Homo sapiens: one gene and its partners. The protein of the gene in region 2 interacts with the protein of the main gene of each other region in a biochemical or structural test. Each region holds a gene or a part of one and is shown on either strand. Other genes may lie near its edges. The genes, in order: SELENOS, DERL1 and RHO.

Region 1 (3,749 bases), on a different chromosome or scaffold from region 2:
TCTAGGGGGATCAAACAGAAATGGACACTCCTGCCACGTGGTAAGTGCTCTTCAAATGCTATTACACAACGCAAGTTTCCCCTCCCCTCCATTATCTCCTAATCATTCTCCCTGACACCCTCCTTCCACCCCTACCAAAAGGTGCTAGATGCAAGGGGGGCATGCAGAATTCAAGCACTGTTTCTCCCCATGGAAAAAAATCAGGTTTCAAGGTAGTCAGTCACATCTAATAGTGTACTTAAACATACCCCTCTACTTTTTGTCGTTTATTTCTATTTATAACAAACTCTTGTGTTGAGGGCTCTTGATGGACGGCAGCAAGGGAGCTGCTCTGCTGCATATGAAACCCCGACCCAGAGCCCCTCTACTCATGCGATGTGTAGTTGACAGCCACTTCACAAACATTTTCAGCTACAGAAAATATATTCAAGGAAGAATGTTAAAAAGTTTCCTTATAACCTACAAGGGGTTCTCTCTAGATGTAAACAAATCTGGATGAAATATTTTAATCCAAGTATACCATTTCCCACGTCGTAAATCTTCTGGGCTGGTGGGAGCCAATCCAGTTACACACTGGAAGGGGAGTGAGGGTCCCAGGGCTTCCCCACACCTCACAAGGCCCACCCTTGTTTCCACTGACCCTCTCTTTGACCTGAAACCCCCAATTGCCTCCACAGGCAAAACAAAACTCAAATCTCTCTAGACTCAAAGACTTAAGACTATGCCAACCTATTTGTTTGTAATTACACTGCTCAAGGCTCCTGTTTCCTCTCCTTCAGCCATTCTCCAGAGCGCTCCTCAAGAGATTTTAAGTCTCTCACAGCCAGACTGTATTTCCCTTGGTCAAGAAGCAACCACGGAATATTCTACCTGCAGGAGATAACAAATGTTGACTAATTTATGTATGAGACCATTCTATAGTACTTTTGCAGCGAATTACCCCCTATTCTGAAGGTTAATGTTTTTCCTTCTGATGATCTAGACGGGGTCCACACACTACAGCATTCAGCCCAAATCCAGCCCATGAGCAGAGAATCTTTTTTAAAAACAATCCTTTAAAAATATAAAAACCTAAGACTATGTGACAGAGATCATATGTGGCCTGTAAAGTCTAAAATATTTACTGTTTGGCTCTTTATCCAAAACTGCTGATAGTGCCTCTGGACAAGAGCGTAAAAGATGAGTCATGGCGTAAGGGAATAACTGAGAGGTCACGTAGAAACCTGGTCAGCCTATGAGGAACCTTGAGGCACGATGTTTCTTTATCCCAGTAATTCGGCAACTCGACTCCAAGCACCCAATTTTGTGGATGAACCCCAAGGAGTCTGTCAACTTTCAAAATCACGGCAGCTGTCTGCCACTTGCCAGACTTATTTTGGGTGAGTAATAATAAATAGAGAAATAAGTAATAGTTAGAGGTTGTAATAAAAAGCTATTTAATGTTTGATAGACAAATTGAAGTCCATAAATCTCCTTGAATAAAGATGCTAAAAATGTTATTCTTGTTTTTTAAATAGTTTCGTTTTTACAAAGTTCTGTACATAAAAATAAATATACAGAAACAAACCCCATCAACTGTCCACATCAGTAATCCTCACTGGTGGGCTCACCATTGATAAGGAAGACATCATTCAACGCAACCTGTCACAGAGACTGTCCTAGCAGCAAGGATTTCTAACCTCAAAAGAACATTACTAGGCCTCTTTTATCAAGATTGCTAATCATCTAGAGGCCTTTACCTACCAACTAGCAATTAACCATGAAATCAATGAATGCAATCACTGTCTCCAAGTAGAATGTGACCAATGACCTCATGCCTAGAGGCAACATCTATACCTTTTGCTGACTGGAGCCCTGACATATGCAGGTGTAGTTAGGAACAGAAATCAACCCCACCTCCCCTTGGCTAGTCACTGTGAAAAGCGTGCGTAAGGCAATTGAATCGAGGGTTAAGGGTTCATCTTGCTAATGTCAAAAGTGACACTAACAAGATTCTTAGCCTCATCCGCCAGATGACGGGCCTCTGCGTCCAGGTCTCCAGGAGCAAGCTCCGCCTCCTTCACCAGACAACGGGTTATAACCTGGGAGGACAGAAAAGCAGCACAACAGTATTGATAAAAATCTGAAAATCTGGGAACATTGTATATCCACAATAAAATTATGAGAGTGACACGCAAAGCACTGCAAAGATACAGATCCTAAGGGACATTTAAAAAAACCTTTTAGCTATGTGAAAAAAAAAAAAACCTTTATATTGTGATTGCCATTTGAACTGATTGTCTGGTGGGGAAAAAAGTCATTCAGCTTCTTTGTCCCAACCTCCGAAACACATGCAAAAGGGTCACCAAAAAACTCTCTCAAGAGGGCCTGATTTAAGTATATGAATCCTCCTATCACAGTGCTTACTAAAACTCATACATTCAAATAAGGGCTGTTCACGCTACAGAAAACAGATTAAAAAAAATCAAGAGTCAAACTTGTCACTTCTACCAGTCAGAACGGGGTCTTCTGTATCCTTCCCTACCCCCAACCACCCCACTCCCTCATGAGCTTCCCAAAGTCAGTGCACAACTGGTAACCTGGTTGAGTGCTAAGGTTCTAGGGCCACCCAGAACTTAAATGTTACTTTTACTCCTTACTTATAGTGGAATCTTTGGGCAATTAAACACTGTGCCTCAGTTTCCTTATTTGTAAAGCCAGGCTAGTCAAAAGTCCCAGCTCAGAAATGCTGGGGATGCTGAAAGAGGCCGTGCAGGCAAGCACACCCTGCATTCCATCTTCTACGATTTCCATTCCTCTCCTAAATATCACCTCTATGTGTCTAAAAATAAGCTTCCGGCAGGACCATTTAAAAATAGCATTTTCTTTCCAGATGCATCACCTTCTCTACAGCAAGCCAGGTTTAGTCTTCTGACACAAAGGGGATTACAGCTCAGCGTTTAAGGTCAGCCAAGTCTGTGGCCCTGCTGCCTTGGAGCCCATGCCCCAGTCTTTCCTCAGTCCTCAAAGACACCATCAGGGCCTCTGCGGTGCCCCTCTCCTCCTATGGAGGATACAAAATCTTCCGCCTTGGTTCCTACAGTGTTCTAGTGTGTTTGTTCTTTCCTTCCTCAGCAGTAACTTGCAACTCTTAGCCAGAATCACCAAGGATTGCTTATTTTCGTTTGTGAGTCCCATCTTCCCAGATTTGAAATTCTCAGGGATGGGATGAAGACAGACTGCTGTGGCATCATCCAGAGTCCCCGGGGCAGTGCTGCACACAGGAAGCAGCTTTGGATGAGCATCTGTCTGCTACTCCTTGTTATTTGCAAGAAACAAGGTGGTCCCAGCCAGAAAGACCAAAACCACTGTGTTCCAGCTCCTTGACACTCATCTGAAGATTGGCAGACAATTCCTCACCCTACTTAGCTCTCCCTCTACGGGGCTGCAGAAGGATCAAGTTAGAATACTATAAGTACAATCCTTCTAAGTACTTAGTGAGGACCTAGGAGGTGATTTGCATCTGTTTCCTTTATTGAATCTTCACAATCCTAAGGAATTAGTCTTAATTTATGGACAAAGAAACAAACAATCTTGTTCCTAAAAGGTAACTATATCCTGTAAGTGTTGAAAATCTGTTAACATTTGACATCAGTGGTGCTTACCTCCTCCCCGCAAAGGCTTTCTGTCCGATTTCCGTTTCAGGACAGATGAAGTGGAAGGCCCAGGACTGTCTTCCTCCTGTTTGAACACACACAGTAGTGTAAGAA
Region 2 (3,749 bases):
TTTAAACCTAACCCATGTTAGCTGCAACTCCACTACAGTCTTGATCACTTAGCTCAGGAAACAAACACCCAGCAACAACCCTCGTATCTCATTAATACCAATCTGTGGCCCTCACTGACTCAGTGGTACTTTTTTATAAAAATATCTGAAGAAGTGGCAAACGGTTACAACGGATGTCAGGTCGAAGCAATTCCAAAAGCTGAGAAAACGCTTCATCCGCTGCTTGTCTTCTCCCCCTATTGCTACAGTTCTGCCACCAAAGGGGGAAAATTACGTGAATATGATTGTTGTGACCAAGCCTTGGCAAAAGTCAATAAATAACAGAACCTGTCAAGGGCAGAGCAATTTTATGGGCAACCTCTTCTAGTTGCAAATGTGGGGGTTGGGAAAAGTGGGAGAGAGGCATGTGTGCAAGAAAGAGATAAGGGTCCTTTTGGGAAGGGTTTGGTGACCCAGCCCCAGCTCAATGCCAGCAGACTAGGACCCGCTAAAACCCATTATTCAGACGGAAAGGGGAGAAGAGAAGACACCAAAAAATGTAGTCAGTTTTGCAATTTGCACAGTTGGTATTTGTTCTTCACAGCAGTAAGGACTTGAATGAGAATCGTGAAACTTGTGGAACACTTATATTTTTCTTCGGGATTTAAGAAACTTTGTCTCGTACTGAAAGACTACATTCAGTGTGGGTCAGGTCCAACAGTGTTAGCCAGAACGCAGTTGTTAAGTGCACCCAGCACTGGGAGGAAATGTGGCTTGAGAGGAGCGGCTGCCCGAGGCCGCCCCTTCACTGGTCTCCAAGTCGAAAGCCCTGGCCCCAGTTGTGTCTCCCGCCTCCGCCATTCTGATCAGCAGCTCGCCTCATGCTAGCAGGGGGCACACCAAATCCTGATACTCCTCCTCTCCTACTGGGCAGCCAGCGGTACCTGGTGCAGAAAGACGGGGACACAAACGGAGAGAAGAGAACAAAGTCACTTCCACATAGTTATCTGACCTCCGAGAACACCTCCCTCTCCTGCTGTTCCCATGGCACTTGTCATGTTGAAGGCAGCGAGGGACGTCTTATTTAACTTTGTCTTTTCTGTACTCAGCCCCATGACCTGACCACAGACGGCATTCGTTTTTCATGTTTCTTAAATGTATTCAGATTTCAGCTAAATTCACACTCTGAACGTTTTTTTCTCTGCTTATAAAAGTAATCCATGCAGAACAGTATGGAAACAAAAATATTACACCCACAAGCCCAGCAACCAAAGAATGACTGATAGCATCTTGGTATATCTAAATATGGCTCAAACTGGATCAAAGGATACAAAATACATTCACTTTCAAAGGCCAAATCCACAGCCTGCATGTTTGAGCCTTGCACAGCATTTCTAAAAGGCTCTCAGCTGAGCCCATCAAAGGAGACAGGGGAAGAAGGCTTTCTATGTTGGAAGTATGGGTATGTTTTAAAATTTATTCAGAATCTGCCTTCCAGGTACATTCTTCCCTTCTCACAGATGGTGGGAGAGCTGGGGCCCCAGACGGTTAGATGATTTCCCACCTTAAAATTAATAAACTAAGAGTTCACAGAACAGCTAAGAGAACTTAAACCCAAGCCTACACTCTCAATAGTATTTTCCAACTATTTCCCATCTTTGACTCTTTTATTAGTAAACTGAGAATGTGTTTAAACCTATTCCACTTAGCAGATCCTAATGTTTAAAATTTTGCTTGAAGGCAGAGAGCATGATCTGATACCTCCGCTTAAACCCTTCTTGGCAGCAAGAGTAAGTCATGACAGGTGACTTGTCCACAGCAGAAACCCTGAAGAGGACAGGCTTTATACTTGACCTTATACTAGAGCAGTTACTATGTGAATTTACTCAGTGATTATTGCCTTACACTAGGTGCTGCCTGCTTATAAATTCATCTGATCTTCACAATAACCCCATGAGGTAGGCATTACTATTACTCCTGTTTTATAAACAAGAAAATTGAGCCAACACTGAGTGAAGCGCTTCGAAAGTGACAGGATTCCAACCTAGTCAGCCTGGTTCCAGAGCCTGCGCCCTGCACTACTTGTTATACTACATGCATCCTGCCTGGGAAGGGACAGCAGTCAGTGACTGGAGTCTGTTTACATCATACTCGATACCTTCATGCCTCTTCCCAAAACAGACAACAACTCGGGTTTTTGTTTTTTTGTTTTTTTTTGAGACGGAGTCTCACTCTGTCACCAGGCTGGAGTGCAGTAGCATGATCTCAGCTCACTGCAACCTCCACCTCCCGGGTTCAAGCAATTCTCCTGCCTCAGCCTCCCGAGTAGCTGGGACAACAGGCGCCCGCTACCATGTCCAGCTAATTTTTGTATTTTTAGTGGAGCCAGGGTTTCACCATGTTAGCCAGGATGGTCTCGATCTCCTGACCTCGTGATCCACCCGTCGGCCTCCCAAAATGCTGGGATTACCGACGTGAGCAACCACGCCTGGCCAAAAACCCCTTTTAAACACAAAATTTAGTGTGTACAGAGAAGATATAACTACTCTAAATGGAATGGAAAATGGTGATACAAATGTATCAGCATTCCATTTAGAAAAGCAGTTATACCTTCCTATACTCACCTCCTCCATTTTAAACAAATACAGCTTTACCATTAAATCAAAATGTATTTTCCAAGTGCTGGTTTCTCAACATCCATGCCTTCTGGTACAATAATATTCCTCCAAAGTACATAATAAAATAGAACACTTGCTGGAGAAAATGCTAGGGCTGTCTTGCTTTGCTACTCACTCTAAGACAATATGGAAGCCATCTCCACTGCTTAAGTAGATAGTGAAATTAAATGCAAATAATTAGTATAAAAAGATACCCAATTATACATAATCAACAAAAATTTATGGTAATTTCAAAGCAGTTACTGCTTTTGCAAGGAGCTGTATTTTGTCATCTGATCTTTATGCAAAATTTAGCAGAAGGACTTCCCCCAACAGAGAAAGTTCAAGTGGAAGGCAGGCTCCAGGGCTCGCTGATTTTGCCACTAGAATCTTGTATCCTGTGTTGCCCACAACTGAGAAGTAGCTACAAGCCGTTAAGTTAGAATATGGCCATTTAAAGTAAAGTAACTGTTGGCTGCCCCCCAAAAGCACCAAGCTTTTTTTAATTGATGCATCTGCCATCCTACTTGATAAACCTAGATCAGAAAGCCAAACCTGCTGTTATTATGTCCTTTGATAATTAGAAACCAGATTGGTCATTTGTTTTTTTAGCCTGAAGGCAATTCAAGGCTCAGAAGAGAAACAAGTTTCTTTTTATTCTCTTAAAGAAAAACACACACACCACAACCACCAATATGGTATATCTCTGTATATTACAGTTCACAATTTGAAAAGTCTTTGAAAAACATACCCCTACCCTATAAAAGGAAGGGGAGAAAGAGGAGGCCTGCTCAAGTTTTACTGCCCTCACTGATCCCTTAGAGGAATGACAGAACTGCAAAACATTAAAATTAGCAAGATGTGGAAGGGTTTGGTTTGTTTGTTTTTTTAAAGCTTTCAAATGCAAGCTATTACTGCATATCCCTGATATGAGATTAGGCATGATTGTCAGGCAGGCTGTGACACCCAGATGGTGATTTAACTGGCCCGTTCTTCGACAGCCTTTTGCCTCACTGACAGAACGGTCACACGACTATTACATGCTTCTGGGTGTGTGCGCGTCTCCTCTCAGATCGTCAAAATCCTGCTCTCCTACCCCCACCTTTAGGAATA
Region 3 (3,749 bases), on a different chromosome or scaffold from region 2:
GCCCATAAGGGACACGAATCAGATCAGGGGGTCAGGATTGAACTGGGAACCCGGTAGGGAGTTTTGTGTGTGTGTGTGTGTGTGTGTGTGTGTGTGTGTTGTGTGTGTGTGTGTGTGTGTGTGTGTTTAGCAGAAGAATGCATCCTAATGTGGGGCAGAGTTCCTTGTTGGGAAGGAATGCAGAGGTGGTGGAAACCCAGAATTGGCAGTCCTTCCTCCCTCTCCCTTCTCGGGAAATGAAATAACCCGGACATGTGGGGGCCTCTCCTAGGAGCCATGAAGCAATGTGCAATGTTTTGCCCAGAGGAAGAAGAAGGAAATGATGGAATTCAGACATCTGTCCTGCTCACCACCCCATGAAGTTCCATAGGGAGAGTGGCCATATAGTTAATCAACCAAACTGGGACATTCCTAACAGTGAAAGGGACAATATTTGTAAACTGGGACTGACCCTGCAGAGAACAACCACCCGTAAGTGGCACACCCACCTTCTGGCCAGAACTGAGTGATCTGTGATTATTGAATGCAACAAACACCCAACAATGGCCAGAGATTCCCTGAGAATGGGACCGAGGCAGCAGCCTGGACATGGGGGAGACAGGGCAAGGCTGGCAGAGAGACGCTTGTGGCTGGCGGTAAGCTCTCCCCGTCACCCAGCTTTGCAATGGCTGCTTCTAGCGTCTCCTCCTGCATCTCAGCAGAGATATTCCTGGATCACAGCCAGGAGACCTAGGCTCTTGTTGCTGCCTGGCCACATCCCTAAATGAGTCTCTTCCCCTCTCCCTGCCTCAGTTTTCCTCTCTGTTAAGTGGGATCTGTTATCCCTGCAGCACCCCATCTGTTTTCCTGTTAAATGCAAGACATTATTCTAAAGCAAAAAGGAACTGCTTCAGAGCGGCTGCTTGCGGTTCTCAACACCAGGAGACTTGGAACGCGGCAGGGAGGCTGGAGGGGCACCTGAGGACAGGGGCTGAGAGGGGAGGCAGAGGATGCCAGAGGGGACCGAGCCCATTGCCCAGCACAGGGAAGACCCAATGACTGGAGAATGGAAAATCCACTTCCCACCCTGAGCTTGGGCCCCCAGAGAGGAGGGGTCTGGCTTGCCCAGCTCTCCCTCAGTGCCCAGCCTGGGTCTGACTCAGCACAGCTGCTCCAAGGGAAACAGAGGCTTGGTGCTGCAAACATGGCCCGAGATAGATGCGGGCTTCCAACTCAACTCTGCACCCGTCCCTGTGTGACGCCCCAGCAGGGCGCTTGACTTCTTTGAGCCTCAGCTCAGTTTTCTTGCTGTGAAATTAGACAAGCGCATATTGCTCCAAATAAGATCAAGGCAGTGTTCAGTGCCAGCCCTGCACAAACAGCAGCCCGGCTATCACCATGAATGGTGTTTGTTGACTGAATATATGAGGGCTTTGGATAACATTGACAGGACAGGAGAAGGGAGAAGGCCTCTCAGCCACCACCGCCAAGCCCGGGACTCTCCCAGACCCCTCCATGCTCCCGGGCTCCTGCACACCCCACCCACACCCGGCTCATACCGCCCAGGGTGGCAAAGAAGCCCTCCAAATTGCATCCTGTGGGCCCGAAGACGAAGTATCCATGCAGAGAGGTGTAGAGGGTGCTGGTGAAGCCACCTAGGACCATGAAGAGGTCAGCCACGGCTAGGTTGAGCAGGATGTAGTTGAGAGGCGTGCGCAGCTTCTTGTGCTGGACGGTGACGTAGAGCGTGAGGAAGTTGATGGGGAAGCCCAGCACGATCAGCAGAAACATGTAGGCGGCCAGCATGGAGAACTGCCATGGCTCAGCCAGGTAGTACTGTGGGTACTCGAAGGGGCTGCGTACCACACCCGTCGCATTGGAGAAGGGCACGTAGAAGTTAGGGCCTTCTGTGCCATTCATGGCTGTGGCCCTTGTGGCTGACCCGTGGCTGCTCCCACCCAAGAATGCTGCGAAGGCCTGAGCTCAGCCACTCAGGGCTCCAGCTGGATGACTCTGGGTTCTGACCCCCCCAGACCCTTATAAAGTGACCTCCCCCTCCTAAGCTCCTGGCTGAATCAGCATCTGGGAGATTGGGGGTGTTCATAATCATATTAATCCCCGCTGCAGAAACTGAGGGCCTAATTGGCTTCTAAGAGGGGCCAAGGTGACACTAGGAGGAAGCCTGAGGTCAGGGAGGAGAGGTACTCAGGATCCAGGAAAAGGGAGGAGAAGGTCCCCTAACTTCTGCATGACTTGTCTGTCCCAAGGTCCCAGCTCAGTCTGGTGGCCTGGGTTTGAAATAGGGACCATGGGCCTCTGTGCTATGTCCTCTGGACAGCTAGAGACTTTCTGGTTTATTCTCCCAGTCTCTCATCTCGTCACACAGCCCCTTACCTGTTCGTTCCCCCACAAGTTACCTCTGGAGTCATCCAGTCCCCACACTCCTCTGACAGGAGGAGCTCCATGAGGGCAGGGGCTGCAACCTGCAGCTTCCGTTTCTGGTGCCAGACACATAGCCTAGGGCCCAGGAGCCCAATCCTTGTTGCATGGAATTGGAATTCACTCTCTTGTTCGTTCATTAAACATTTATTTGCAGGCCCCTGGGAATACAAAGATGGAAAGAAACAGCCCTGCCCAGAGGAGCTCAGGGGCTGAGGAGGACTCAAATGTGGGAAGAAGCAGATTCCGTCCAGGGTGGCTGTGAGGTTGTGGAGACAGGGCCTGACTGCCTGGGGGTTGCAGTCTGGGAGGCCATGTTTGGGCCTTTGAGAGAAGGAGCAGTTTGCCAGGTGGCTAGGTGGGGAAGATCTGGGCTGGGGGCAGTTGTAATGGGTCTTGAACGCTAGGCCGGGGAACCTGGCTTTATCCAGAGGAAAGTGAGCAGTGGCTTGGGCAGATCACTGGTGTAGAAAGGTGACTCAAATGCCCCCAAAGATGGAGTGGAGGGAGGGAGGATGGAGGGGGCTACCAGAGCAGGGGAGGGGCAGAACCCTTCAGGGGACTCCAGTCTGAAGGGGAGGCTGGCCCTGGAGGCAGCAGACAGGGCACTGTTGGGGGAGGCCTAATCAGCCACGAGGGCCTCAAATGCCATGTACCAGGTGGCCCCACGAGGGCCGATTCCAGAATAGCAGGATGTACCGTGAGAAAGAAAGTAGTCAGAGCCTTGGGGGCAGATGACTGGGGGAAAATGGAGGCCAACACTGGCAGGTCCCCCTCTCCCCGTCGTCCAAGCAACATGATGACACCTCCCAGGAATGAAGTGGGGTGTCTGGGGCGGCCTGTGCAAGTGCTGAGAGTGCCCGACGTGCGGCCGCTCAGTGACCACTGTCCAGCCAACATGTGTATTGAGCACCTACTGTGGCCCAGACAAGGTGCTTGGTCCTTGGGGACACACAGGGTACACGAAAGAGCAAGCTCCTGCTCACAAGAAGCCAGTGTTTTTGTGGGGTGAGGGGGCACAGGGACCACAAACAAATAGAAGAGCGAATAACAGTAGGGACAGTTCAGTCGCAGCCACTCCCAACACAGGAGGCTTCTCTGAGAAGCTGGAGCTTGAGCTGAGAACGGAACAACAGGAGGAAGCTTCAGGGGAAGGACATCCAGGCGGAAGGACCCCTGAGAGTGCAAAGCCCTGATGCCTGGGAAATATCCCTTAATCTCTCTCTCACTGTCTCTCTTCCCACCCAGGATTCCCAGATCTGTCTGCTCAGAAGAGTGCCCCCTTCCCTGCAGCCCACCTGGGCTCCAGCCCCCTACCTGGCCTGGGTGGT

The links.
Region 1: the proteins of DERL1 (region 2) and SELENOS form a complex in vitro, tested with the Homo sapiens proteins (one study listed by BioGRID).
Region 3: the proteins of DERL1 (region 2) and RHO form a complex in vitro, tested with the Homo sapiens proteins (one study listed by BioGRID).

Annotation. Positions count from the first base shown.
Region 1 is NC_000015.10:101,270,776-101,274,524, forward strand, and holds the end of SELENOS (selenoprotein S), read right to left. Parts: intron 3,721-3,749; coding exon 3,645-3,720; intron 2,082-3,644; coding exon 2,002-2,081; coding exon of another isoform or gene 1,996-2,001; 3' UTR 1,989-1,995; exon of another isoform or gene 1,416-1,988; intron 871-1,415; 3' UTR 34-870; downstream 1-33. UniProt on the Homo sapiens protein: Involved in the degradation process of misfolded endoplasmic reticulum (ER) luminal proteins. Participates in the transfer of misfolded proteins from the ER to the cytosol, where they are destroyed by the proteasome in a ubiquitin-dependent manner.
Region 2 is NC_000008.11:123,014,663-123,018,411, forward strand, and holds part of DERL1 (derlin-1), read right to left. Parts: intron 924-3,749; coding exon 785-923; 3' UTR 1-784. UniProt on the Homo sapiens protein: Functional component of endoplasmic reticulum-associated degradation (ERAD) for misfolded lumenal proteins. Forms homotetramers which encircle a large channel traversing the endoplasmic reticulum (ER) membrane.
Region 3 is NC_000003.12:129,526,884-129,530,632, reverse strand, and holds the start of RHO (rhodopsin), read right to left. Parts: upstream 1,995-3,749; 5' UTR 1,900-1,994; coding exon 1,539-1,899; intron 1-1,538. UniProt on the Homo sapiens protein: Photoreceptor required for image-forming vision at low light intensity. Required for photoreceptor cell viability after birth.